Regions from separate parts of the Homo sapiens genome. Here all the other regions are linked to region 6. The links come from fine-mapping of genetic effects on gene expression. A gene starts in region 6. Each other region holds a variant in brackets. All regions are shown on one strand. Distances are from middle to middle.

Region 1 (4,065 bases), 170 kb before region 6:
TGAGCCGAGATTGCATCACTGCACTCCAGCCTGGGCAGAAGAGTGAAACTCCATCTCAAAAAAATAAAAAATATAAATAAATAGCCTCTGAGAAAGCTCTTCCAAAAGCAGAACTAAGCATTTTGGGTTTGTTCCGCATCACCTGGAGTCCTAATCCAGTCCCTTTGTCCCTCTCTCTAGCAATGGCCAATGTACATGGTGGACTATGCCGGCCTGAACGTGCAGCTCCCGGGACCTCTTAATTACTAGACCTCAGTACTGAATCAGGACCTCACTCAGAAAGACTAAAGGAAATGTAATTTATGTACAAAATGTATATTCGGATATGTATCGATGCCTTTTAGTTTTTCCAATGATTTTTACACTATATTCCTGCCACCAAGGCCTTTTTAAATAAGTAAAAAAAGAAAAAAAAAAAAAAGAGTGTTGCCTTTACTTTTACGGTCACTGTTTCATGTTCTCTTTTGGATCGTGGCCGCAGCTGTCACTGGGGACAGGGTCAGGAAACGCAGCTCAGGTGGCCTGCCAAGGCCCTCCTTCTTCATCACAGCAGAGGTAGTGTCCAGGAAGACCCCAGAGCTCTCTGTGCTCCTGGGAGCACGTGACCTCAAGAAGAAAAGCCACGGAAGGAAAATGTGCCACGGGGCCGGGCGTGGTGGCTCATGCCTGGAATCCCAGCACTTTGGGATGTCGAGGTGGGTGGATTGCTTGAGGTCAGGAGTTCGACCTCATTGGCCTGTAATACCGATGCTTTGGGAGGCCAAGGTGGGAGGATTGCTTGAGACCAGGAGTTTGAGATGAGCCTAGGCAACATAGTAGAACCCTTTCTCTAGAAAATGTTAAATGTGGCTTACACCTGTAATCCCAGCACTCTGGGAGGCTGAGGCGGGTGAATCACCTGAGGTCAGGAGTTTGAGACTAGCCTGGGCAACATAAGGAGACCCCGTCTGTACGAAAATGCAAAAATGAGGCCGGGCATGATGGCTCATGCCTGTAATCCCAGCACTTTGGGAGGCCGAGGCGGGTGGATCACCTGAGGTCAGGAGTTCGAGACCAGCCTGGCCAACATGGTGAAACCCCATCTCTACTAAAAATGCAAAAATTAGCCAGGTGTGGTGGCGGGAACCTGTAATCCCAGCTACTCAGGAGGCTGAGGTAGGAGAATCACTTGAACCTGGGAGGCAGAGGTTGCAGTGAGCTGAGACCACGCCATTGCACTGCAGCTGGGGCAAGAAGAACAAAAGTCCGTCTCAAAAAAACAAAACAAAAGCACAAAAATTAGCCAGGCGTGGTGGTGCACACACCTGGAGTCCAGCTACTCAGGAGGCTGAGGCAGGAGGAGGATTGCTTGAGTAAAGATGGTTGAGGCTGTAGTGAGTCATGATTACACCACTGCACTCCAGCCTGGGCGACAAAGCAAGACCCTGTCTCAAAAAAAAAAAAAAGTGTTAAATATGGTAAATGTCAGAGAGGGAGGGGCCCATCCCAGTGAAGCACTGTGGCTGGATGGGAGGCTTCTTCAAAAAGGGGTTTGGAGACCAGGTGCGGTGGCTCACGCCTGTAATCCCAGCACATTGAGAGGCCAAGGTGTGCAGATCGCCTGAAGTCAGGAGTTCGAGACCAGCCCAGCCAACATGATGAAACCCTATCTCTACTAAAAATACAAAAAAATTAGCCAGGTGTGGTGGCGCGCAACTGTAATTCCAGCTACTTGGAAGGCAGAGGCAGGAGAATTGCTTGGACCCAGGAGGCAGAGGTTGCAGTGAGCCGAGACTGTACCATTGCACTCCAGCCTGGGCAACAAGAATGAAACTCCATCTCAAAAAAAAAGGGGGGTGGGGTGGGGGCAGGACAAGTTTTCTTTTTTCAGAGGCAAGTTCTTTCTGTGTCCCCAGGCTGGAATGCAGTGGCACGATCATATCTTCCTGCAGCCTCAAACTCCTGGGCTCAAGTAATCCTCCTGCCTCAGCCTCCAGAGTAGCTGGGACTACAGGTGTGAGCCACCACACCCAGCTAATTTTTTGATTTTTTTGTAGAGATGGGGTCTTGGGTTATGTTGCCCAGGCTGGCTGCAAATTCCTGGGCTCAAGCCATCCTCCTGCCCCAGCCTCCCAGAGTGCTGGGATTAGAGGCGTGAGCCACCATGCCCAGCCTGGGATGATTTTGGATAGAGCTCTGGATACCTGACAAGCAGAGTGATGGGGTCCCAGCTGTGTCTCAGAAAGACCACTTTAGGGGCAGGTGGGAAGTTGAAGGAAGGGACAAGACTGAAGGCAGAAAGACAAGTCACAAGAGCGTGGCAGGCGTCCAAGGCCTGGCACCCAGTCCCTGCTTATTGGGTGACACATATTTACTGAGCCCTGCCCTTCTGGCTGGGGAGGCCAAGCAGCTGAGTGTCCTAATTGGGGAGGCAGCTGCCAGGGAGTACAAAACAGAGTA[G/A]GGCTGGTGCGGTGGCTCAGGCCTGTAATCCCAGTGCTTTGGGAGGCCAAGGTGGGAGGATCGCTTGAGGCCAGGAGTTCAAGACCAGCCTAGACAACATAGTGGAACCCTTTCTCTAAAAAATGTTAATTAGCTGGGTATGGTGGTGTGTGCGTGGTCCCAGCTACTCTGGAGGCTGAGGCAGGAGGATTGTTTGAGACCAAGAGTTTGACACTGCAGTGAGCCGTGATTGCACCACTGCTCTTGAGCATGGGCAACAGAGCAAGACCCTGCCTCTGAAAAAACAAAGCGGGGGGGCCTCACCTAGTGCAGAAAGTAGGAAGAGTCCTTGAAGCTGAGGCTTGAAGAGCAAGTGAGGCTTTGGGGGGACAAAGAGAGGAGGGCTGAGGTAGGTGGGTGTTTAAGACGAGAGCGATGTGGGCAAAAACGGAGCTGGACAGGGACTGGGTACGTTCCAGGAATAAGAAGGTGTCACCAGAGCAGACACAGGGTGGCTGGAGGTGACATGTCAGGGCAGGTGTGGACTTAGTCAGGGTTCCCGAGGACGCTAAGCAGGTGTCTCCTACACATGGTGCCGGGCTGAAGTGGTGGGCAGAGGCAGACATCCAGCCTGGGTTACACCTGCCCAGCCATGCACTCTGGGACAGAGCTGCGTACTTTTTCTCACCGACCCACGTGGAAGGCCTCATAAGCCGGGCCAAGGCAATTTCCAGAAGGCAAATGAGACCCACAGCAGGAAGTACCTGGGGGAGAGCCAGGCCTAGGTCTGCATTTTGGAAGGGTGCCCCTGCCCGCTGAGAGATGTCGGAGAAGGAAGGGAGGAATACATCAGAAGACCACCTGGGAGGCTCCAACAGAAGATAGCAGTAGAGGCCAGGCGTAGTGGCTCATGCCTGTAATCCCAGCACTTTGGGAGGCTGAGGTGGGTGGATCACCTGAGGCCAGGAGTTCGAGACCAGCCTGGCCAACATGGTGAAACCCTGTCTCTACTAAAAATACAAAAATTAGCTGGGCATGGTGGTGGACACCTGTAATCCCAACTACTCTGGAGGCTGAGGCAGAAGAATCTCTTGAACCCAAGAGGCAGAGATTGGCAGTGAGCTGAGATCGCACCACTGCACTCCAGCCTGGGCAACAGAGCGAGACTCCGTCTCAAAAAAAGAGAGAGAGAGAGAGATGGCAGTGGTTTGGGCCAGGTGGAGAAAATAACTAGAGGGTCAGCCAGTCGGGTGGACGAGGGGTTCTGGAGAGTCAGGGGTCAGGGTGGTCCCAGGATCTGGCTCTAACCGTCCACCCAGGGCCCAGAATGAGGCCTGTGGCTTGGAGGGACTGAGTTCTGAATCAGCTGAGGAAATGGTCAAAACTTTAGTCCAGGGCTTCTGCCAGTCCTCAGGGTCAGTCCCATCCATGCCCAGAGCTGGGAGGAAGGCCCCATCCCAGCCTTCCAGACCACACTTCCTCCTGGAAAGACGCTAGAAACCACGTGCCTGGCACAGCCACCCCCTCTCCGCTGGTGCAAACCCCCCACCCAGTCAGCTGCCAGCCTCACCTTCCTCCCTCCCACCTCCTAGTGGCTCCCAGTGCCACCAGGCGCCTCCACTCCACCCTCAGCCCCTGCCCTGGGCC
Region 2 (4,065 bases), 48 kb before region 6:
CCACCGCTCCCGGCCTCTTTTTTTTTTTTTTTTTTTTAAGACGGAGTCTTGCTCTGTTGCCCAGGCTGGAGTACAGTGACCTGATCTCGGTTCTCCGCAGCCTCCGCCTCCTGGGTTCAAGTGATTCTCCTGCCTCAGCCTCTGGAGTAGCTGGAACTACAGGCACACGCCACCATGTCCAGCCAATATTTTACTTTTAGTACAGACAGGGGTTTCACCATGTTGGCCAGGCTGGTCTTGAACTCCTTACCTCAGGTGATCCACCCGCCTCGGCCTCCCAAAGTGCTAGGATTACAGGCATGAACCACCGCGCCTGGCCACGGTGCTAAGAATTTAGTAGTGAATAATTCAGTGGCAAATCCTCGGGAGTGTTTTGCAAATAAGAGTGACACTTTTTGTCCTTCACTTCTAGGAAACGTGGTGACTATGTTGAGAAAAGGGGGAAAAAAAAAAAAAGAGAAGACCTAGAGCAGTCAATAGTTTTTTGACAGAAAACTAGCTTGGGAGCCTCTTGGAACTACCTAGGGCACAGAGAAGAGTGCTTTAGAGCAGGTTGGTGGCAGGGGAGATAAGAAGTTGTTGATTCTGGGGAGATTTTGAAGACAAAGCCACCAGGCTTTGCTGTTTATTGTTTAATTCTTGTATTTTCTTAAATGTCTCTGCAGCACTTTTAAAATGGACATAATTGCTTAGGTTAGCACTTGAACACTTTGTTTTAAATTTTTTTTATTGCTGCCAAATAGTCATTTAATAAATACCCAATTGTTTATGTAAAGAGTTTTAGAGGAGCTATAAGTGGTATCCATGGGTGAAAGAATGAATCCATTTATTTGAAATGTATAGGGTAATTAATGGCTCCAGTTTTGAAATAGATATATTACCTGGTGTTGATTGTTTTTTTAACTTTGAATAGATGTCAGATTGTATGATAACACATTCCCAGTCTGATTATGTTGAAGCTAAGAGTATCAGAACATATTGTAACATAGTCTATTTATTGATTCACCGGCCAGAATGCAGTGATAAACAGCTTTAGCTCTGAAGCCTGTATTATCTTTAGGTGTATTCGTTAATATGTTGCAAAAAGGAAGTTGGTGTTTTCTAAACACAAATTTTGAGTTAGGGACGGTGTTGCCAACTTGAAGGTATTGGCGGAGTGCTTTTGTTAGTGTGGGTAGCATAACTATTGTAAATTCATGAATAGCACCTTTTGCATATTAAAATATCTTAAAATGGGCCAGGTGTGGTGGTGTAATCCCAGCACTTTGGAAGACCGAGGTGGGTGGATCACCTGAGGTCAGGAGTTTGAGACCAGCCTGACCAACATGGTGAAATTCCATCTCTACTAAAAATATAAAAATTAGCTGGGCGTGGTGGTGGGCGCCTGTAATCCCAGCTACTCTGGAGGCTGAGGCAGGAGAATTGCTTGAACCCAGGAAGTGGAGATTGCAGTGAGCCAAGATCGTGCCACTGCCCACTGCACTCCCAGCCTGGGTGACAGAGCAAGACTCCATCTCAAAAAATAAAATAAAATATCTTAAAATGTATTTTAAAAGCTTTACATTTTGATTATGGAAACAGAGTTTGGGCTTGAATTTGAAGCATGCTGAAACGTGTGTCTTGTTAAACAAAAATGGTTGTTTATACTTTGGAAACGGCAGATAATTGGAAGAGCAATGCCCAGTATGTGAGGGCAGGCCCTAGAGCTTTAGTTGATGTTTTATGCTTCAGAGTAAAAAGTAATTTTGATCCTT[T/G]GTGGAAAGGATTTTAGGTCGAGAAACCCATTTTTTTTCTTACTTTCTCAAAACCAATTAATTGCAACAAAGAGTTAATTGCAGAAAAAATTGAGGATGTGGTGAAGTTTATAGCTGTTCTGATGCCTGAATGCCATGTTCCATATGACTTAAAACACCCAAAGATTAATTAATAAGTTTATGAAACAGGGTTTTTAAAATAGAATATATGGTGTGATATTTTATCAATAACTACATCCAGCTGGGTGCGGTGGCTCACACCTATAATCCCAGCACTTTAGGAGGCCAAGGCAGGAGGATCACTTGAGGCCAGGAGTTCAAGACCAACCTGGGCAACATAGGGGGACCCCTATCTCTACAAAAGTTAAAAAAAAAAAAATTAGCTGGGCGTGGTGGTGCAGGCCTGTAGTCCCAGCTATTTGGGAGGCTGAGGTGGGAGGATCACCTGAGCCTGGGAAGTCGAGGCTGCAGTGAGTGGTGCTCCAGCCTGGGTGAAGGAGGGAGACCCTGTCTTAAAAAATAAAGTAACTACATTCATCTCTATATATGTTCACATTTAACAGATTGAACTTTATTATTTGTCAGTGAAGAGGAAAATGTGATATCCCTGATATTTTCAATATTTTACAGTCTTTGTTGTATTAAAAAAGCACTCTAGTAGATTTGCCTTTTTCTCTTTCTTTTTTTTTTTTTGGTTTATGATCGATTGGGTTACCTTCATAAAATATATTTATGCTATTAAATCTATTGTGGTCTAAAATGTTTGTGTGACTGAAAAAGTGAAGTCTTTTCAGTAAGGAAAACCTGTCTTCCCTTCCCCTGGGCCTCAGCTGTGAAGTTTGGATTTGGACTGAGATCCATGGGATGGAGCTCCACAGGTGTCCCTTCCATTCCATCTACAGCTGTGTTTCCTTTCTCATGTCATTCTACTCTAGCAGCTTTCAGTTTATGTCACTCAATGAATAGTCAGCTTAAATGATGATCTATAAGGATACTTAGGAGACCTTAACCTATAGGGGAAATACTTTTATTTTAGAAGTTACTGCTTAATGTTTGTAAAAAAATATATAGTAATATTAAGCATTTATAATGCTTTGACAGTATTCATAGGTGAAATGAGTGTATTTTGTTTTAACCTTTGGAAGCCAGCATAAAAATACTCTTAAGGTTTCTAAAATCTGTTTGGGAGTTGGAAAATCGGGTTTTTTAAAAAGTATATTTTCAGAATTGAGGTCCAAACTTACACACTTCTGTTTTCCAGATTGTTTCTACTTAGGTTGGAACCTTAATCTATTTATAGGGTGTCTTGACCATTTTTAATCCTTACAGTCATACAAACCCAGGTGCCAGTCAAGTTTTATTTCACAGGGAGGTTGTCATTTTAAAATTGTTTTCTGTCCTGGTCCCGTGGCTCATGCCTATAATCTCCGCACTTTGGGAGGCTGAGGCAGAAGGATCACTTGAGGCCAGGAGTTTCAGACCAGCCTGGGCAACATAATGAGACCCTGTCCCTACAAAAAATTAAAAGAAAAATAGCCAGGTGTGTTGGTCCCAGCTATTTGGGAGGCTGAAGCAGGAGAATCATTTGAGGCCAGGAGCTCGAGGTTGCAGTGAGCTATAATCATGCCACTGCCCTCCAGCCTGGGCGATAGAATGAGACCCTCCCGACAGATAGATAGATAGATAGATAGATAGATAGATAGATAGATAGATAGATAGAATGAGACCCTGCCAATAGATAGATAGATAGATAGATAGATAGATAGATAGATAGATAGAAAGAATGAGACCCTGCCGATAGATAGATAGTTTTCTATCAAATTTTTTCCTAGATTTGAACATGTTTTTCTAAAGTAGCATTCAACACATCAGCATTTTATAGCGTCATTAGTTGTTACTATGATTATGTTTTTCTGAAATAGTATCCTTTACAAAAGCACTTCTGTCTTTCTAAGCACATACATAGGTCCTAAAATGAATTTGTCTGATGTTGGTGACCTCGGAACCATTTTCTCCAGTTGATTAGCACGGCCAGCCAGTCAATAATTTCAGGTCACTGTTGGCCTTAGAGGAAGAGCCCAAAGGCAGCAAGCAAGGGTGCTGGTGTCCAGTCGCCTTCTAGAAGCATTTTCACCTTCCCTTAAGATTTCCCTTGATTAACACAGAAGTGTCTATAGAAGTGACCCAGTGCTGCCCCGGGCAACATCGTATATTAGGCCAAATTTGCATTTCTTACCTTTATGAGAAGCACCCTCGTAGTCTAGTGGAGTTACACACACACAGTCTGATCTCAGCTGTGCTCTCCAGAGAT
Region 3 (4,065 bases), 650 kb after region 6:
GCCAGGCCAGTAATAAAACACAGGGTGCCTCAATAGGGCTTTCCCCGCTGCGTCAGAAACACTGTACGGGAGGAGCCTCCTGAAATGCAAACTCCCAGAGTCTCAGAGCGAGGCCCACGAATCCATTTTTACCTGGCTTCCCATGGGAGGCAAACTTCCACCCCGGACAGCTCCTCTCTGATCTCTGCCATCCAACTCCCATCCCTGGGCTGTGCTGTACTCCTAACCCGAAATGTCTTTCCTGTGCTGAACCTGATCTTCACGGGGCCTCAGAGGGCCAGGAGCCTGCCACCCCACCCAACCTCTCCTCAGACAGACGAGCAGGGCCACAGGGTGGCTTGCTGCTTACCGAACGGTCCAACACCAACAAAGCCTTGGGCGGGTGCTGAAGATGCCCCAAAGGAGAGGCTGCTGCCCGATGTGCCCACTCCAGGCGCAGGGGTGTTCTGACCAAAGGTGGGGGTGGCGGTGCCTGGAATGAAGAGAACAGAGAGCTAGCCAGTGAGCAGAGGGCGGAGGCAGGCGAGGAGCCGGGCAGGAGCCTGTGCTCTGCAGGGCACTTCCCACGGGACCCTCAGCCCCACTTCTGCTTCTGGGGCACTCCTCCATCAGCAGCTGAGCCAGACAACCGAGTCTTCATGCCTGGTGCCCCAGCTCAGCCTGCTTCTCCCACCCGCTAATGGCCACGCCAGGGCAGAGAAAAAGCCCCCCTGCCCCGCAGCCACCTCGTGGGCCTCCTGACCATCGCTGCAGAGGGGAGTACTCTGGGGCCCCCGCCTCCTAGCGTACCTGGGTTGGCTACCTCCTCTGTTCAGGCCTTTTCCCCCTAGCCACCGTCCCCTCCCCTCTGAAGCCTGGTTTGTCCGTCCTGTGTCTTTTGTGATGCCCCGTGGTCCCCTCCCTTCCCCGGCCTTGCCCTGACTGGCTCTGGCTGCCTGCCCGATGCCCTCTCTGGCAGCCCCTCTGCAGGGATGGCTGCTCTCAGGGCTTGGCCTCCGGCCCGGACAAGGGGAAGCTCCCTGTGCTCCCACGCTGCTTCCACACAGTTTCTCTTCCTTCCCTAAATACCGTAACTCAGGTTCAAATCACTTTAATCTGCCATGTCCTCATGTCACCTGTCAACTGCCAGGTCACTCCCTGATTCACAGAGGACCCTTGGCTCACTGGCTTCCTCCCCATCACCACTCACGGTGACTTCGCCCTGTGGGGCTGACTGATGGTCCTCTCAGCCCCTCGGCCCTGCCACCCCCATGACCTCCTCTCCCCGACCCCTGCCACCACTCCTGCAGCCACACTGTCACCACAACTGCTCCGGCTCCCGAATCTCCTGCAGGCACCACCCCTCCTGCAGCTGACTTCACCCGCTCTCCACTCCTGCACCCCCTGAGCTGCATCGGGGCACTGACCCGCTGCCCCTCCTGCTGTGCTTGCTGGGGTCTCCACAGCCGGGTGGCACCAGCTGTCCGCTGACCTTAGATCTATACCCAGTGTCGCTGGGAAACACACGCCATGCTAACTGGCCTCACTTTAACTTCACAATCACAATTTTCCAGCCCACAAACTGCCTGGAAACTGATCACACTTTTTAATATGATGTTCCTTTCCCCCACTGTCCAAAATGACTATTTCAAAAGACCCCTTTTTTATACACTTTATCCCGACCTTCCCTCTCCCAGATTTTCTCTCCTACTTCACGAAGCAAACAGAAGCCATGGGATCTACATTCATCTTCCACA[C/T]GGGAGGAACCATCACTGCATCCTTCTGCCTGATTCTGCAATGGTTTTCCTGAACACTTAAGACCCAAACACCCAACCCTGGCCACAAACAATCCTCGCCTCTTGGCCTCCTTCCACACCACTGCTTTAGCTCCTGCCCTCCTGCCATGCTTGTCTTTGTTCTGCTCTTCAACATACCAAACATGTTTCTGCCTCTGGGCCTTTGCATGCGCCATCCTGGGCCTGAAAGGCATGTCCACTTGTGCTGTGCCCACCCCCACCCCACCCCCATATTCAGCTTACGCTTGAGACAGTCTTGCTCTGTCACCTAGGCCAGAGTACAGTGTGGCATGATCTTCGCTCACTGCCACCTCCACCTCCTGGGTTGAAACATTCTTCTGCCTCAGCCTCCCGAGCAGCTGGGATTACAGGTGGGTACCACCATGCCCGGCTAATTTTTTGGTATTTTTAGTAGAGACAGGGTTTCGCCAAGTTGCCCAGGCTGGTCTTGAACTCCTGTCCTCAAGTGATCCACCCTCCTTGGCCTCCCAAAATATTGGGATTACAAGCATGAGCCACTGCGCCCAACCTTCAGCTTACAATTGTTAAGTACTCAGAAGGCCTTTGACCAGTTAAATCCACAATGGCTCCTCCAGTCATTACTACGTTAGCAAAACATGTATCATGCCCTGGCATCTCACTGAGTTCTATATTCAGTGCCTGTCTCTTCACTGCCACAGCATAAGCTCCCCGAGACCACAGGCTTCACAGGCACAGCTTTTCAGTGTCCGGCCCGGTAGCCCAAGTCCACGCCCCTCCTTACCTCCAAACACAGGTTTGCTCTCAGTTGTGCTGCCCACGTTGAAGGCAAACGGTGTGCTCTGGCCGGTGGTGCCCAGGGCGTTCTGACCTAAGCCCCCTGTGAAGGGGGTGGAGGTGGCTGTGCTCCCACTCTGTCCTGCTCCAAAGCTGAAAGCTCCGGTGGTGGCGCTGGAGCCTGGGGTGGCCACGTTGATCCCAAAGCTCCCACTGCCAGCGGGGGCTGCCGAACCCCCAAACGTGAAGGGTGATGGTGTTGTGCTGCCAAACACCGAGCTGCTGCTCCCGCTGCTGGCGGTCTGGGTGGTGGCTCCAAAGCCGGAGCTGGTGGCTGCACCGAAGGAGAAGACAGCAGTGGAGCCGCCAAAGGCGGGCTGTGAGCTGGCGGGAGCGCCGAAGGCGGAAGCCGTGGCTTTCAATCCAAACGCCGAGTGCGTGGCACCGCCAAAGGTAGGCTGGATGGGCGTAGGCACGTGCGCAGGCACGATCTTGATCGTGGACGCAGGTGCAGGTGTGGGTGCAGTAGCCGGGGCCGGGGCTGCAGAGTTTCCAAAAGTGAAAGAGCTGCCAAAGCTGGGGGTAAGGGCTGGCTTGGCGGCCCCCGGTGGCTGCCCCTCAGCGGCCCCAAATGCGGGCTGGGGGTTGGCTCCCGGATATGATGGGAGCGGGGACTTGGCGCTTGAGCCAAAGGGAATGTTGAACGTGGGGGTGCTCGTGTTACTGAACGTCAGAGTGGGCTGGCTGCTGGTGGCCGGGGCGGAGGTGGCGAGGGTGCTGCCAAAACCACTAAAGTCGGCAGCGCTGCTGCTGGTGGCCGTTGGCACGGCAGTGGGCAGGGACTGGCTGAAGGTGGTGACTGTGGTGGTTGTGGGCAAGGCAGGAGGTTTGCCAAACTGGAATATGGAGCCCATGGCCGGGGTGAAGCTGGCAGCAGAGGCCTGGGGCGCCCCGAAGAGGAAAGGCTGTGAGGCGGCAGTGGCGGTGCTGGTCGTGGTACTCACACTGCTGCTGCTCACACTGTTTATGCCAAAGCCAAACGCAGGCTTCGAAGCAGAGTCTGTGGATGGACTGGCAGAGGTGATGGGAGCCACAGCAGAGGTGGCGCTGGCCAGGCCAGTGAAGAGCGGGGCAGTTGTGGTGGGAGCAGTGGCGGGAGTAGTTGTCTGCTTGAAGAAGGGAGCAGGCAAGGGCACAGATGCAGGTGGCCCCATGCTGCTAAAGACAGGCTGGAAGGTCGGGGCTGTGGTGCTGGTGGTCGTGGGGAGGGAGGAGCTGGAGGGCGCTGTGGCTGAGACTGAAGGGCCAGGCGGTGTGAGGCCTTCCTTCTCACTCTTGGGTGGAGCCGTGAAAATGGGCTTGAACATGGGAGATGCTGAAGATGCAGCAGGGGCGGCAGGGCTGGAAGGTGAGGTGTTCTGTGTTCCAAACAGGAAGCTTTGCTTGGGGGCGGGGGACGGGGCAGATGTGGCTTGGGGTTTGGTAGCCGTCTCTGCCTGAAGGGTTGGAGGTGCCTTGGTGTCAGTGGCTGGTA
Region 4 (4,065 bases), 280 kb after region 6:
TGACGTCAGGTGACTCTACTCTTAGCATCCATTCTCAAGACCTCCCCGGCCAGCCTTACCCTCCATGGGAAATACTGGTCCTCCAGGCGACCGATTCCCAGGCACCCTCGGATGTTCTTGCCCCATACAAACAGCTCTCCTTTGTCTGCAAAGGGAGGAAAACAGGGGTTGGTTGGGACTGTGTGAAGAACAAGTCTCCAAGGAGAGGATGGGTCATGAGAACAGGCTTTCTAGAACCAGATACCTACAGAGCCCACTGTTCAGCTTTTACCAGGCGTTCATGCTTTCTTTGAAGGCAAAAGTAAGGGTCTGAGATGCTGTCCCCATATCGAAAACACATCCACGGCCAGGACTTCTGCTGCATCCACCCACGTGGGAGATGAGCACTCAAATGAAGATGGGGCAGGGGGCAGTGCACGGGGCTGGGGGTGATGCATGGAGCTGGGGTCTGGGGGTGGTGCACGGGGCTGGGGGTGGTGCATGGAGCTGGGGTCTGGGGGTGGTGGACAGGGCTGGGGGTGGTGCATGGAGCTGGGGTCTGGGGGTGGTGGACAGGGCTGGGGGTAGTGCATGGAGTTGGGGTCTGGGGGTGGTGGACAGGTCTGGGGGTGGTGCATGGAGCTGGGGTCTGGGGGTGGTGCACGGGGCTGGAGGTCACTGATGCACACGGCCCACTCTGCTCACCCCTTGTGCCCCGCCCACAATCGTGTGCCACCAAACTCTGCCTTCCACAAATCCTGGCGACACCCTGGGCTTCCTGATTTGACAGTGAAAAGTAAGACAATTTGTCATTCCTGGATTGATTGTCCATATCTTGGGAGCATTCAGCCACAGGGCATCTAATGACCAAGTGCCTGCTTGTGCTGGGTCTAGGTCTGTGTTCCAGGAGCTGGGGACTGGCCAGAGACGGAACAGACAGATGATTTTAATATATGTTTACAAACTGTAAAAACTGTCATGAAGAAAAAGTACAAGATGCTGTTTAAGAGGTCAACCCAGGAGATGGCCTCTCCTAGCCCGGCCTTCAGGTGGGACTCTGTCTGCACCAGCTGGGGCACTCCTGGGCCCATGTCACCATCAGCTGTTGGGCAAAAGGCTTGGGTCATGGGAGGCAGAGGAAGTGACATGGAAAAGCCAGGACTACAAGACCTGGGGCTGATGAAGTACGGAATAATTACAAGCTGTCTTAGGCCCCTGATCTAAGCATGCCCCTTGTTCTCCACACTCAGACCTTAGATAGTTTTTGTGTGTGTGTGTTTGTTTGCTTTTGAGACAGGGTCTCACTCTGCTGCCCAGGCTGCGACGCAGTGGCACAAACATAGCTCACTGCAGCCTTGAACTCTCAAACTCAAGCAGTCCTTCCACCTCAGCCTCCAGAGTAGCTGGGACTACAGGCGCACACCACCACACCCAGCTAATTTCTGTATTTTTTGTAGAAAAGGGATCTCACTATGTTGCCTAGGCTAGTCTCGAACTCCTGGGCTTTGAGGGATCCTCTCATCTTGGCCTCCCAAAGTGCTGGGATTACAAGCATGAGCCACTGCACCCAGCTAGCCCTTAGGTGTTTAATAGAACAATTCGGCCTGGCTCCCCAAAATGCTAGCAGACCACAGGATAAACCAACCAACTCTAATTCCCAGATGGCTATCTGCAAATGCCAGGCACACAGGCAGGAAGACAGCTAGGCTCTGTCTACCAACAGGCAGTAACTCACCCTTAGAAGGAGGCCTGTTAAGTCTCGGGGAGAAATCCAGAAAGGAATTTCATTTCGCTGTGACCTGAAATGGCTACATGGCATGAGGGCAAATAGAAAAGCCTCTGCTCTAGTCAAATGCTTCACACAGATTTCTAAACATGTGTCTCTGCCCATAGTTGAGGCCTTAAGAACTTTCTGGAAAGTAGATATTTGTTTCCCCCAAAATTAGTCCATACGACTCTTATTTATCAAATCAAAATAGCTTTAAGAATTCATGACACTGAATTAGCCGGGCGTGGTGGTGTGTGCCTGTAATCCCAGCTACTTGGGAGGCTGAGGCAGGAGAATCGTTTGAACTCGGGAGGCGGAGGTTGCAGTGAGCCAAGATCGCGCCATTGCACTCCAGCCTGGGCAACAAGAGTGAGACTCCAACTCAAAAAAAAAGAATTCATGAGACCTACACTCAGCTGCAAATGCAAGTGGCCACTCTGGCTGGGCAGTGGCCAGGAATTCTCTGGCTTAGTCATGACCACTGCCACTTCAGTGCTTCAGCCTAGAGCCAGATAAAACTCCAGCTGGCAGCCATAACAACCCAGGCCTGCCTGTTTGACGGCCTCTGGAGCCTGGAATTCAGACAATAAGTGAATAGCAGTTAGGACCCTGGTACAGAGGGTGAGCATCTGGGACAGGCCCCACGTGGGAATGAGGCCAGAGAACTCAACCAAAGATGACACCAACTGACTGTCCCGGCCTGGATGTTTAA[A/G]AAGAAAACAATTACTTGCCATGAGATGAAAAGATTCTTTTAATTGCAAGGAAATAACTAATTTACTTGAGAATCACAGAATGAAATTAATTCAGGACAGTTTTACTATTCGAGTCAACTAAAGAGCAGCAAATTGAACCCACGGTAACTGTGGTGGAGTAAGAGATGTAACCAAGAAAAGGACACATTCCTTACCCTTACCCTGCAGGGTAAGCGGATATTCTGTGGCTTTGTAATCTGGCAGGCCTTTGGGAAAAACCTCCATTTTGCTCTCCCCTTTCATCATTCTCTACCCCGGCACTTTGGAGAAATCGGTAGATTTACCTCCGTGAAACCACGGGACAGTCTGACAAATCGGCCTTTTGCCATCCCATATCCTGGGTCAGATCAGGGTCTGGGCTCGGCCAGGGAATGGGATTAAGCCCCACACATTCACTTCCTAATCACCCACCCATGGATCCGCCAAGCCTCTGCTGGTTTCCTCCAGCACCCGACGTACTAGCAATGCCCCTTCCTACCACCGACGGGTGCTCTCTTGAGAAAATGCACGTTCACGTTAGCCTACCCACAAACCAAACGAACCAAAATTAAAACTCCAGGGGGGGAAAACAAGACATTATACAACCTCGAGGCAAACAACTTCTGGCTTAGCCCTTGCTTGAGTTATCAGTACAAAGGCGCCGTTCTGTTGGATGGGTGGAACCTGAGAGCTGCCCGCAGTTTGGGGTTGAACTGGAGACAGAGAACCTCTGCTGGGCTCACACCAGGGCCACCGGGCTTGGTAACTTACTGGTCAGTGCAGCAAAGTGGCTGAGTCCACATCGGATGCGGGAAACCTGGATTTCTGGGTTGAACTCCGTCAAGCCAAAGAGAGTGGGTGGAATCATTTCAGGGACGGCACTTTCCACTAGGTTTGGACCTTTCCCAAGAATTCCATAGCCCCAGACAAAAACATGTCCTTCTCCTACATTACAGTAAAAACAAGGGTCAGTAAGTCCATCCAAGTAAGAACCTCCCTCACCAGAAACTCAAACTACACCACCAAGGTTTATGACATCCACACGGTTTTTTTTTGTTTTTTTTTTGTTTTGTTTTTTTCCTCCTTGCTTGGCAAGAACATGCAGACAGAGATTTAGAATAATAATTCTCTCTCCCCTGCTTAAATTCTTGCTGGGGGAGTCTGTCTCGCCAGCTCTCCTGGCTCAGAACACAAACTTCCCACATCTTGAGGGTTAGTAACCTGGAAGGGACGAGCGTATAAATCATCCAGAAAACCCATACGAATACCAGAGAATTGGAGGATGTTTTCTCCCCCTAATGACAGCTCTGTGTTTCACACTGATCAGAAGGCCAAACACATCAACAATGTCTGGCCAGATTCTTAAAACTCTTAGAAATGATGTTTTGGTTATAGAAAGTTTAATATTCATCAGTGGTGCCAGATATTTCATCGTTATCCAAAGCTGAAGGCTGTTCTCCCATCTGCCTTTGATTTTTTGGCTGGAGAAGGCAGAGCTGGAGTCTCTCTGGCCCAGGCTAAGGGAGGGGAATGAAGTAGTTCGCTCTCCACTCCAGAGGTTTGCTCTAGGATGACTCAGCTCTGTGG
Region 5 (4,065 bases), 160 kb before region 6:
CACCATGCCTGGCCAACTGTTGTTTTCCCATAGCACATATTGTGCTTTGAATCAGAGTTGGCTGATACATGTCTCTTTCCCTTTGTCTTCTCTCGCCCCGACCGTGCACTCAGCGCCTAGAAGGCAGAAGCCATCTATGACCGTGGGGACCAAAGTGACACTCTGGAAATAGGGCGCATAAGGAGAGAGAGTGTGTGTTTCAGCAGCTGCTGCAGACTGCACCATCTAACCCTGAGCTGCTGTCACCCAAGAAAAGTGAAACTCATTTCTTATTTAAGCCACGGTTTGCAGGAGCTGAATGCAATCCTGACTGATCACCATATGCTCCATTTTCATTAAGCTAGAAAATTAGCCAGCCATGGTGGTGCATGCCTGTGGTCCCAGCTACTCCGGAGGCTGAGGCTGGAGGATCACTTGAGCACAGCAGGTAGAGGGTGCTGTGAGCTATGATCGTGCCACTGTACTCCAGCCTGAACCACAGAGCAAGACTCTGTTTCATAAAAATAAAGAGAAAAGGTAGAAAAATTACGTGTGTATGTGTGATCACTTACATGAGCATAAAGATGCTGAAGGATACATATCTTGCCATTAACATTGATAGTCAATATCAAGGGATAAGATTAGAGACAATGGAGAGATTATGAGGTTTCTATTTTTTAATTAATTAATTAATTATTTATTTTGAGGTAGAATCTCGCTCTGTCACCCGGGCTGGAGTGCAGTGGTGTGATCTCCGCTCACTGCAACCTTTGCCTCCCAAGTTCAAGCGATTCTCCTGCCTGAGCCTCCCAACGGCGAAACTCAGTCTCTACTAAAAATACAAAATTAGCCGGGCGTGGTGGCAGAGTGTGGTAGGTGCAGGCCTAGGGAGACTGAGGACATGGAAGGTTCGGTGGAGTTTTCCAGTTTGAGCCCAGGCCACCAGATTCAGAGTTGCTCCAAATTCCTTGGTGCAAAGGGTCAGGCTCCAGTTCCATTAGCCTAATGCAGCAGGCATCCAGGAGACCGGCAGGGCCCTGCCTGGGGACATGAGACCCAGAGGGGCAAGTGCAGCCTGGCAGAGGAGCAGAGTGACAGCTGTGGCATGTGGCGCTGGCCCCAGGCTCCCCAGAGGTGTGCCCTGGCTCTCATGAGCAGACCCAGTTACCTGCCCTGCTCTGGGGCTCTGAGATGGTGGCTGGATCCCATCTTACATGCAGCTGAGCTGGGCTGGGGCACACAGGAGCCAGGCGTGTGCCCAGTAACAAACAAAACCATGTGGCCATGCTTGCACATGATCCATGTCTTCTTGGTCAGCAGCTCTTTGCTGCTCAGAGCCTTCATGGCGCCTGCCCTGTGAAGCCACGTGGTGGGGACGGGGGTGGGGATCACAGTGCTGCTGGCCCAAACCCCCTCCCACACCCCTGCCTCCCTGCTCCTATTTCCTCTCTCGAGGCAGCCAAGGGTTTCCTGTCTTTCTGGCTGTCTGAGCGGCTTCCTCATTTATCTCTCAACATCTTGCAGCAGGTGCCATCGTTCCTTCTGTTCTTGGAAACTCAGACAGGCTGGGACCAAGCAGAGATCCGTGGGGATTGTTCAAAGGAGAGATGGCAGAGGGAAATGGCAGTGGGGTTAGTTTTGCAGGACCCAGCTAGGTTCTGGGGGAGCCAGCAGAGAGAAGGGTTTCTTTCTTTTCTCTCTCTGCTTTTTTTTTTTTTTTTTTTTCTGTTTTTAGAGACAGGGCCTTGCTCTAACACCCAGGTGGAGGCGCAGTGGCGTAATCACAGCTCACTGCAGCCTCGACCTCCCAGGTTCAAGTGATCCATGATTCTCCTGCCTCAGCCTCCTGAGTAGCTGGGACCACAGGCACACGCTACCATGCCCGGCTAATTTTTATTTTTGTAGAAATGGGGTCTCACTATGCTTCCCAGGCTGGTTTCAAACTCCTGTCCTCAAGAGGTTCTCCTGCCTTTTGGGGCCAAATTCCTGAAACCTGGACTGACTCCTGTGCCCCCTCCTCCTTTCTGACCCAGTAAAAGTCTTCTCTTTGCAGCTTCTGCACAGGGACCAAGTGAAATTGCTAACACGGGTCGGGCGCAGTGGCTCACACCTGTAATCCCAGCACTTTGGGAGGTTAAGG[T/C]GGGTGGCAGATCATTTGAGGTCAGGAGTTTGAGACCAGCCTGTCCAACATGGTAAAATCGCGCTGGGTGCGGTGGCTCACGCCTGTAATCCCGGCACTTTGGGAGGCCGAGACGGGCAGATCACGAGGTCAGGAGTTCTAGACCAGCCTGACCAACATGGTGAAACCTTGTCTCTACTAAAAATACAAAAATTAGCTGGGCCTGGTGGTGGGTGCCTGCAATCCCAGCTACTCGGGAGGCTGAGGCAGGAGAATCGCTTGAACCCAGGAGGCAGAGGTTGCAGTGAGCCGAGATCATGCCATTGCACTCCAGCCTGGGCAACAGGGCAAGACTCCATCTCATAAAAAAAAAAAAAAAAAAAAAAAAAAAGAATTGATTAAATGCCAACATGGTGAAATTTCATCTCAAAATACAAAAATTAGCTGGGCATGGTGGCACACACCTGTGGTCCCAACTACTTGGGAGGCTGAGGCGGGAGAATAACTTGAACCTGGGAGGCGGAGGTAGCAGTGAGCCAAGATCATGCCACTGCACTCCAGCCTGGGAGACAGAGTGAGACTCCAGCTCTGAAAAAAAAAAAAAAAAAGCAATTGTTAACAGAATCGTGGCTCCGAAAGTAGGGTTGCCAAATAAAATACAAGAAGCCTAGTCAAATGTGAATTTCAGATGAACAACAAATAATTGTTTTAGTGTAAGTTATGTCCATATATTGCAAGGAACATGATTGCACTCAAGAATTATTTGTTGTTTATCTGAAATTCAAATTCAACACAGCATCCCCTATTTTTATTTGCTAAATGTGGCAACCTGATCCTAAAACGGCTCAGCTTTCAAAGTTCTAATCAGATTTCTCAGAAAGGAAAGAGAGGGAGAAGGAGAGGGAACAAAAGAACAAATTGCCCCCTAAAGAAAGAAATCACTCCGTGTGCCTGAGCAATTGAGGGGCTTCCTCCTGCAGGCCCAGACACAGATGCCCCAGGAGAGAGGGCCAGGCTGTGTGAGACACTTAGGTGCTAATACTGGTTCAGCCACCAACTTCCCACCTCCCTGTAGGTCATCCCCGGGCAGTGGTTGGGATTCCCTGAGCTCCAGGGCACCTCCTCGCTGAAGATTCACAGGCCCCGGTGTCCTGGGTGCTGTCATTCATCGCACTAGTTCCCAGCACCCCCTCTGTCTGCAAAGGTCAGGCCCTGGGAGAGGAGTGAGACTCCTGGGCCCCCGAGCAGCTGGCTAGCAGGCAGATACAGACCCATAAACAGATCTCCAAGATCCAAGGGGGCAGAATTTCTGCCTTCTCCTTTAGACAGAGAGTTAGTCCCTGCTGAGCCCCGCACCTGTTCTCTCCCCTGTGCCAGCAGCCACTCAGGGATCTGCAGGGGCTGCCTACAGGTGATACTGGCTGCAGTGGCCCTAACATCGTCGACAAAAAAAAGCTCTCCATGGAGGCTGGGCGCGGTGGCTTACGACTATAATCCCAGCACTTTGGGTCGTTGAGGCGGATGGATCACCTGAGGTCAGGAGTTTGAGACCAGCCTGGCCAACATGGGCAAACCCCGTCTCTACTAAAAATATAAAAATTAGCCAGGCAGCTGGGCGAGGTGGGTCATGCATGTAATCCAGCACTTTGGGAGGCCGAGGTGGGTAGATCACCTGAAGTCAGGAGTTTGAGACCAGCCTGGTCGACGTGGTAAAACCTCGTCTCTACTGAAAAAAAAAAAAAAAAAAAAAATTGGCCAGGCGTGATGGTGGGCGCCTATAATCCCAGCTACTTGGAAGGCTGAGGCTGGAGAGTCGCTTGAACCCGGGAGCCAGAGGTTGTAGTGAGCCGAGATCGCGCCATTGCACTCCAGCCTGGGCGATAAGAGAGAAACTCCATCCCCCCAAAAAAATTAGCCAGGCATGGGCCGGGCGCAGTGGCTCATGCCTGTAATCCCAGCACTTTGGC
Region 6 (4,059 bases):
ACTGGATAATAAAAGCAGGAACAGGCCAGGTGCGGTGGCATGTGCCTGTAGTCCCAACCTACTGGGGAGGCCAAGGCAGGAGGACTGCTTGAGCCCAGGAGTTGGAGGCTGCAGTGAGTTATGACCAGGCAACTGCACTCCAGCCTGGGTGACAGATAGAGACCCTGTCTTTAAAAAAAAAAAAAAAAAAAAAAGGGCCAAGCACAGTGGCTCATGCCTGTAATCCCAACACTTTGGGAGGCTGAGGTGGGTGGATCTCCTGAGCTCAGGAGTTCAAGACCAGCCTGGCCAACAGGGTGATACCCCTTCTCTACTAAAAATACAAAATTAGCCAGGCGTGGTGGCGCACACCTGTAATCCCAGCTACTTGGGAAGCTGAGGCAGGAGAATCGCTTGAACCTGGAAGGCAGAGGTTGCAGTGAGCCGAGATTGTGCCACTGCACTCCAGCTTGGGCAACAAGAGCGAAACTTCGCTTCAAACAAATAAATTAACGCCCAGCATGTCTTGGCTTTCATCTGCCAGACCTCAACCCTCACCCCCAGGAGATCAGGTCCGGACCATGAGCTGACCCTGGACTCAGGCAAGGGTGAGTTGGTGCAGCCCTGGCCTGCTGGGAGGCACAGGCTGCAGCAGGCTGCCTGGGGCTGAGGCCCGCCACTCATGAACTCATGACCTTGAATGAGCTCCAAAAGCTCTGGGCCTCCCAGGCTCTAGGGGGAGTGGGAGAGAGAGGCCTCAGCCTGTCCCTGGGCATGCTGCCCCCTCCTCACCTCTTTGTCCCAAATCCCCTTCCTGGCAAAGCTGACAGTCTTAATATCACTCTGGAGAAAACTGAGTCAGCCCTAAGGAACAATTCAATGAACCATTTGCTTACTTGAGGATTGGAACTCAAGTCTCACTCAAAGTCTGTGCCATTTTCGTCCCAGCTGTCACTGGCCCTCATCCACACACACCCAAGGATGAGCATCTAACGCTTGCATGCACACTCCCATGCCCGCGTTCATTCACTCATTCATTCATTCATTCACTCATTCATTGACTCATTCATTCATTCACTCACTCATTCATTCACTCAGTGAATGTTGCAGTCACGATCCAAATATTTATGGCCTCTGTGTGCCAGGCACTAGATGGAGGGGCTGGGGCTAGAGCCCCTGATAACCCGGTCATGCCCTAGCTTTCCTGGGACACACATTGTGGTAAGGGGAGACTAAAAAAATTAAGTCAGGCCAGGCACGGTGGCTCATGCCTGAATCCCAGCACTTTGGGAGGCCGAGGCGAGTGAATTACCTGAGGTCAGGAGTTCAAGACCAGCCTGGCCAACATGGAGAAACCCAGTCTCTAATTAAAAAAAAAAAAAATTAACCAGGTGTGGTGGCACATGCCTGTAATCCCAGCTACTCAGGAGACTAACGCAAGAGAATTGCTTGAACCCAGGAGGCAGAGGTTGCGGTGAGCCGAGATCGCGCCATTGCACTCCAGCCTGGGAAACAAGAGCGAGACTCCATCTCAAAAAAAAAAAAGTGGGAGGCAGAGGCAGGAGGATCACTAGAGGCCAGTAGTTTGAGACCATCCTGGGCAACATAGCAGGACCCTGTCTGTACAAAAAAATTAAAAAAAATTTAACCGGGCATGGTGGCACACACCCGTAGTCCCAGCTACTCCAGAGGCTGAGGCAGGAGGATCGCTGGAGCCCAGGAGTTGGAGGCTGCAGTGAACTGTGATCCCACCACTGCACTTAAGCCTGGATAACAAAGCAAGACCCTGTCTCAAATAACAATAGCAATAATAATAAAGAAAAATTAAATGCAATTTGCGATGCATCAGTGATAAGTGCTCTGCAGAAAAAGGAGGCAGGAAGAGGCTGAGAAAGGTATGAGGTTTGCTATGCAATGTGAAGTTATCAAGGAAGGCTTCTCGGAAGAGGTGACATTTGAGCAGAGAAATGGAGGAGAGTTATGGAGGGAAGATGGTGAATGGGGGGAACATGGTCAAGACCAGGAATATGGTCAAGGGGGGAAAGATGGTCAAGGGGACGCAGCAAATGCAAAGGCCCTGAGGCAGGAGCAGCTTGATTCACCCCCAAAACCCGTGGGGCCCGTGCAGGCGACGGGAAGGACAAGTGTAAACCCTTTTCCTTGTCCCTGCAGGTGTGTGTGAACATGAGTCTGCCCATGTTTACACCCTGCAAGCCTGAAGAGTCCCCAGAAACTGAAAGAAGAAGCAAAGCCCTTTCTGTACCCTCCCTGCCCCCTGTCCCGACCGCGACAAAAGCGACTTCCTCTTTCCAGTGCATTTAAGGCGCAGCCTGGAAGTGCCAGGGAGCACTGGAGGCCACCCAGTCATGGGGGACACCTTCATCCGTCACATCGCCCTGCTGGGCTTTGAGAAGCGCTTCGTACCCAGCCAGCACTATGTGAGTAGCTGGTGGAGGGCATCCCGTGGGGGGAATACGGGAGGGACAGCACGGCCACCCTTGCAGTCCCAGGGCCAACCAGCTCCAGTGAGGACTAACGGGGCAGGGTCTTGGGCACCTGGTCCCTGGTCTTTGAGCCTGGATCTACCCCTCTGATCCCTGGGAAGACAGTTCCCTTGGACCCGCCCTGGGCCCCAGCCCTTTACTGTCCCCGCCTGTGTCCCCAGCCAGGCCCTCAGCCTTAGCCAGGAGTCCTCTTTCTGCTCCCCTGCCATGGCCAGGCAGCCCAGCGCTCTCTCAGGTCCGAGGCCCACTCCTCCAGGAAGCCTTCCCTGACTAGCCCAGCTATCAGAGAGTGGCCCTCCCAAGAGGGAGGCCTGGAAACTAAAGCTCTCTCTCTCCCCAGCTGCCTGTAGTGTCAGTTAGAGTCTTATCCTCTCCAGTAGGGTGACACCATGACAGGGGCCAATAGAGTCCTCCCATCTGTCCCCAAGGAGGCTGGACAAATGCCTGCTCAGACACACAAGTCCACTGGGTCCCCTAATCCCATAGGAAGGCCAGGGAGGAACTACATTTAGGAAATTGAAGCTTGTATGGAACATTTAGTCCTATGTGCCAAGACCTTTCTCTTTTTTGTTATTTTTTTGTTTTTTGAGACAGAGTCTTGATCTGTTGCCCAGGCCAGAGTGCAGTGGCACGATCTCAGCTCACTGCAACCTCCGCCTTCCAGGTTCAACTGGTTCTCCTGCCTCAGCCTCCAGAGTAGTTGGGATTACAGGTGCCCACCACCACGCCTGGCTAATTTTTGTATTTTTAGTAGAGACAGGGTTTCACCATGTTGGCCAGACTGGTCTCAAACTCCTGACCTCAAGTGATCCACCCACCTGGGCCTCCCAAAGTGCTGGGATTACAGGCATGAGCCACCGTGCCTGGCCTGTTTTTTTGAAATGAGGTCTGGAGTGCAGTGGTGCGATCATAGTTCACTGCAGCCTCGACCTCCCAGGCCCAAGTGATCCTCCTGCCTCAGCCCCTTGAGTAGCTGGGGCTACAGGCGCACACCACCATGCCTGGCTAGTTTTTAAAATTTTTGTGGAGATGAGGTTTCACTATGTTGTCCAGGCTAATCTTGAACTCCTCGGCTTAAGCAACCCTCTGGTCTCAGCCTCCCACAGTGCTAGGATTACAAGCGTGAGCTACCGTGCCTAGTCACTTTTCTCCTTTTCTTTGTAACTTTCAGTTTTGAAATTTCAAATTTACAGAAAGGCTACTGGGTGTCAAAACGGTACCAGTCACTCCAATAGTCTTTCACTCACCTTCATCCACACCTCTCTTTCTGGGGATATTTTCTGAATTATTTGAGAGTGAGTTGAAGACGTGTTTCTTTACCTCTAAATACTAGTTGTTGGGCATTTCTTAAAATCAAGGCATTCTCTTACATAATCACAACACACGTGTCAAAATCAGGAAATTAACATGGACAAAACACCATTATCCACCCACAGACTTTACTGAGGTTTCCCCGATTATCCTGCTTGTCCTCTGCAGTGAAAACTTTTTTCAGGTCTAGGATCCAGTCAAGGATCAATGTCATAGCCTTTAACCTTCTTTAATCTGGATCAGTCTTTTTTCTTTTTCTTTTTCT
Region 7 (4,065 bases), 350 kb after region 6:
AAAAGGGAAAGGAAAAAGGAAGAAAGAAAATTGCAGAAGGAGGTTTCGCAGTGAATTTCAGTGGCACCATACCCACAGGCAGTTTCCTAGGGAGTTCCACCAGTTCCCCAGAGCATGGCTTCCCAGCAAATTCTCTTGGCATCACCCTCCAGGTAGCTTCCAGAGAGTTCCACTAGCACACTAGAGGCCATCTTCCTTATAACGCCCAGAAAGTGTTGCAGGCACCCACAGGGTAACTGTCTAGTGATTTCCACCAGCACCCCCAGAAAGCAGGCCCCTGCTTGCCAGCCACCACATGGACAACCCCACAGGCTTCCCCACTATCCAGTGGGCCGTGACCAAATCCTGTTTAATGAGGTCTGGATCTCGGCCCTGGGGAGCCACCCCATTCCTGGATTTGCTCCCTCCTGGGTCCCCTGCCTTAGCCCAGCAGTTACAGATGCTCTTGCAATTTGCTGCTTATGTTCTCTTTAGAGTCCTCAGTCCCTCTAGCAGCTAATCCCATGTTACCAGTTGACGACTCTTCTAGGAAACTTCACCTGTTGGTGTAAATTAGTACAAGCTCTATGGAAAACAGTATGGAGATTTCTCAAAGAACTAAACATAAACCCCCATTCAATCCAGCAAGCCCACTACTTGGCATCTACCCAAAGGAAAATAAATCATTCTATCAAAAAGACACCTGCCTTGAACGTTTATCACAGCACTATTCACAATAGCAAAGATGTGCAAATCAAGCTAAGCATCCATCACCAGATGATGGGACAAAGAAAATGTGGTACGTACACTATGGGATACTATTCAGCCATAAAAAAGAATGAAATGGCCGGGCATGGTAGTGCATGCCTATAATCCAAGCACTTTGGGAGGCTGAGGCGATGGATCACTTGAGATCAGTAGTTCTAGACCAGCCTGGCCAACATGACGAAACCTCGTCTCTACTAAAATTATAAAAGTTAGCCGGGGGCGGTGGTGCATGCCTGTAATCCCAGCTACTCAGGTGGCTGAGGCACAAGAATTGCTTGAACCCGGGAGGCAGAGGTTGCAGTGAGCCGAGATCATGCCATTGCACTCCAGCTTAGGCGACAGAGTAAGACTCTCTCAAAAAAAAAAAAAAAAAAAAAAAAAAAAAAAAAAAAAAAAGAATGAAATGATGTCTTTTGCAGCAACATGGATGGGATTGGGGGCTATTGTCTTTATCATTTGACGTAAAAAGGCAAATGCGGCATGTCCTAACTTACAAGAGGGGCTAAATAATAGGTACACATGGACATAGAATGTGAGGCTAGGTGCAGTGGCTCACTCCTATAATCCCAGCACTTTGGAAGGCCGAGGTGGGCAGATCACTTGAGGCCAGGAGTTCGAGACCAGCCTGGCCAACATGGTGAAACCCTGTCTCTACTAAAAATACAAAAATGAGCCTGGTGTAGTGGCGGGTGCCTGTAATCCCAGTTACTAGGGAGGCTGAGGCACGAAAATCTCCTGAACCCAGGAGGCAGAGATTACTGTGAGCTGAGATTGCGCCACTGCACTCCAGCCTAGGTGACAGAGTGAGACTCTGTCTCAAAACAAACAAACAAAAACATGGTCATAGAGTGTGAAATAACAGACACTGGAGACTCAGGGGTGGGAGGCAGGAGGTGGGTAAGGGATGATAAATTACTTCATGGGTACAATGTACATTATTTGGGTGATGAGTACACTAAAACCCCAGACTTCACCAACAACACCGTATATCCATGCAAGAAAACTATACTTGGCGGGGTGTGGTGGCTCAGGCCTGTAATCCCAGCACTTTGGGAGGCCGAGGC[A/C]GGCGGATCACGAGGTCAGGAGATCGAGACCATTCTGGCTAACGTGGTGAAACCCCATCTCTACTAAAAAATACAAAAACTTAGCCGGGCGTGGTGGCAGGCACCTGTAGTCCCAGCTACTCAGGAGGCTGAGGCAGGAGAATGGCGTGAACCCGGGAGGCAGAACTTGCAGTGAGTGGAGAACATGCCACTGCACTCCAGCCTGGGTGTCACAGCGAGACTCTGTCTCAAAAAAAAAAAAGAAGAAAGAAAGAAAACTATACTTGTGCCCCTTACATTGATACAAAAAAAAAAAACAAAAACCTTTCTGTGTTCAAATTACTATGTGGTTTCTCTCTTCTGACTAGACTGATGAAAACAATCAGTTTTAAAACTTTTGGAGGAGCAATTGATTCTGGGGCTGGTCTTGAATGGGTTCAGGGGTATAGTCTTCCTATACAATTATTGCCACGTTTCAACTGTATAGCAAATCAAATTTCTGTTATAAAGATAATTTCTGGATGGGTGCAGTGCCTCACACCTGTAATCCCAACACTTTGGGAGGCTAAGATGGGAGGATCACTTGAGGCCAGGAGTTAGAGGCCAGCCTGGGCAACATAGTGAGATCCCATCTCTAAAAAAAATTTAAAAGTTAGCCAGGTGTGATGGGGCACTCCTGGAGGCTGAGGTGGGAGGACCGCTTAAGCCCAGAAATTTGAGGCTGCCGGGAACTTCGATCATCCCACTGCACTCCAGCCTGGGCAGCAGAGTGAAACCCTGTCTCTAAAAATAATAATTTCCTTAAACTACTACTATTTCTTTATATGTTGATTTTTTTATAGTTCATTAACCTGTTTATCATAAATACAATTTTTTCTTGTTTTTCTTTAAAAGATCTTGTTTTATATTTATTCACTTTTTTCCCTTTTTTCTTTCAATACCAGAAACAAAGTACGGAAGTGTACAGCACAAATGCTTAGAAACTGACCTAATGCCAATCATCCATTTGCAGGCGTTGCAGAGGGACTGTGTGAGGTGAAACCTCCCTGCCCTGTGAACGGGATGCAGGTCCACTCGGGCGAAACGGAAATACTCAGGAAGGCAGTGGAGGACTATTTCTGCTTTTGTTATGGTAACGTTCACTTTAAGCATTAATTCTATTTTTTTTTTTTTTTTGAGATGGAGTCTTGCTCTGCCACCCAGGCTAGAGTGCAGTGGTGCGATCTCGGCTCACTGCAACCTCCGCCTCCTGGGTTCAAGCAATTCTCCTGCCTTAGCCTCCCAAGTAGCTGGGATTACAGGCGCCCACCACCACACCCAGCTAATTTTTGTATTTTTAGTAGAGATGGGGTTTCACCATGTTGGCCAGGCTGGTCTCAAACTCCTCACCTTGTGATCCGCCTGCCTTGGCCTCCCAAAATGCTGGGATTATAGGCGTGAACCACCGCGCCCAGCCAAGCATGAATTCTCTAAGTGGTTCACCCAGGAGTAGGACAGTGTCACAGACAGTCTTATTGCCATGACTACTTAGAATGTTTGAACATTTCAAAACCCATATGCTTATCAAGCGAGGAGCTAGTTCTTTTTTTTTTTTTTTCTGAGAGGAGTCTTGCTCTGACACCCAGGCTGAAGTGCATTGGCACAATCTCAGCTCACTGTAAACTCTGCCTCCTGGGTTCAAGCGATTCTCCCACCCCAGCCTCCTAAGTAGCTGGGATTACAGGTGCCCACCACCTTGCCCAGCTAATTTTTGTATGTTTAGTAGAGATGGGGTTTTGCCATGTTGGCCAGGTTGGTCTCGAACTCCTGACCTCAGGTGATCCTCCTGCCTTGGCCTCCCAAAATGCTGAGATTACAGGTGTGAGCCGCCGTGCCTGGCCACCAGTTCTTTTTTTTTTTTGAGGCAGAGTCTCGCTCTGTTGCCCGGGCTGGAGTGCAGTGGCTCAATCTCGGCTCACTGCAAGCTCCGCCTCTCGGGTTCCTGCCATTTTCCTGCCTCAGTCTCCTGAGTAGCTGGGACTACAGGCACCCGCCACCGTGCCCGGCTAACTTTTTTTGTATTTTTTGGTAGAGACGGGGTTTCATTGTGTTAGCCAGAATGGTCTCGATCTCCTGACCTCGTGATCCGCCCACCTTGGCCTCCCAAAGTGCTGGGATTACAGGCGTGAGCCACCGCGCCCGGCCCACCAGTTCTTAATTACCAGATTAAGTGTTCTTATAGAAGATGATGTGGATCTTGGATCTTCTGCTCTGTGGAAACTTCTGTATTGATCAC

Evidence for each region. PIP is the estimated chance that this variant, and not a neighbour inherited with it, causes the effect.
Region 1: its variant is fine-mapped to the expression of NCF1 in whole blood (TOPMed, PIP above 0.99).
Region 2: its variant is fine-mapped to the expression of NCF1 in whole blood (TOPMed, PIP 0.98).
Region 3: its variant is fine-mapped to the expression of NCF1 in whole blood (Lepik 2017, PIP 0.95).
Region 4: its variant is fine-mapped to the expression of NCF1 in whole blood (INTERVAL, PIP 0.95).
Region 5: its variant is fine-mapped to the expression of NCF1 in whole blood (TOPMed, PIP above 0.99).
Region 7: its variant is fine-mapped to the expression of NCF1 in whole blood (Lepik 2017, PIP 0.92).

Annotation. Positions count from the first base shown.
Region 1 is chr7:74,602,185-74,606,249 of GRCh38, forward strand. It overlaps GTF2IRD1 (GTF2I repeat domain containing 1), which reads left to right. Exons shown (of 27, transcript NM_005685.4): 27 at 181-421. The coding sequence ends at 249. Among named protein-coding and RNA genes, the nearest start is that of MIR10525, 8.2 kb to the left of the region's middle. The variant G/A (reference allele first, on the strand shown) is at 2,440.
Region 2 is chr7:74,723,412-74,727,476 of GRCh38, forward strand. The region is part of intron 12 of GTF2I (general transcription factor IIi); the gene reads left to right. GTF2I-AS1 (GTF2I antisense RNA 1) reads right to left here. Exons shown (of 4, transcript NR_110044.1): 2 at 3,991-4,065. Among named protein-coding and RNA genes, the nearest start is that of GTF2I-AS1, 3.5 kb to the right of the region's middle. The variant T/G (reference allele first, on the strand shown) is at 1,755.
Region 3 is chr7:75,418,971-75,423,035 of GRCh38, forward strand. POM121C (POM121 transmembrane nucleoporin C) reads right to left here. Exons shown (of 15, transcript NM_001099415.3): 13 at 2,539-4,065; 14 at 350-472. Among named protein-coding and RNA genes, the nearest start is that of TRIM73, 25 kb to the left of the region's middle. The variant C/T (reference allele first, on the strand shown) is at 1,737.
Region 4 is chr7:75,052,652-75,056,716 of GRCh38, forward strand. RCC1L (RCC1 like) reads right to left here. Exons shown (of 11, transcript NM_030798.5): 9 at 3,250-3,423; 10 at 60-145. Among named protein-coding and RNA genes, the nearest start is that of RCC1L, 19 kb to the right of the region's middle. The variant A/G (reference allele first, on the strand shown) is at 2,460.
Region 5 is chr7:74,616,213-74,620,277 of GRCh38, forward strand. No RefSeq gene overlaps it. Among named protein-coding and RNA genes, the nearest start is that of MIR10525, 22 kb to the left of the region's middle. RefSeq lists enhancers at 631-1,196, 1,197-1,761. The variant T/C (reference allele first, on the strand shown) is at 2,120.
Region 6 is chr7:74,771,687-74,775,745 of GRCh38, forward strand. NCF1 (neutrophil cytosolic factor 1) reads left to right here and starts at 2,325. Exons shown (of 11, transcript NM_000265.7): 1 at 2,325-2,417. The coding sequence starts at 2,346. RefSeq lists an enhancer at 606-1,151.
Region 7 is chr7:75,118,089-75,122,153 of GRCh38, forward strand. It overlaps GTF2IRD2B (GTF2I repeat domain containing 2B), which reads left to right. Exons shown (of 16, transcript NM_001003795.3): 4 at 2,803-2,922. Among named protein-coding and RNA genes, the nearest start is that of GTF2IRD2B, 28 kb to the left of the region's middle. The variant A/C (reference allele first, on the strand shown) is at 1,812.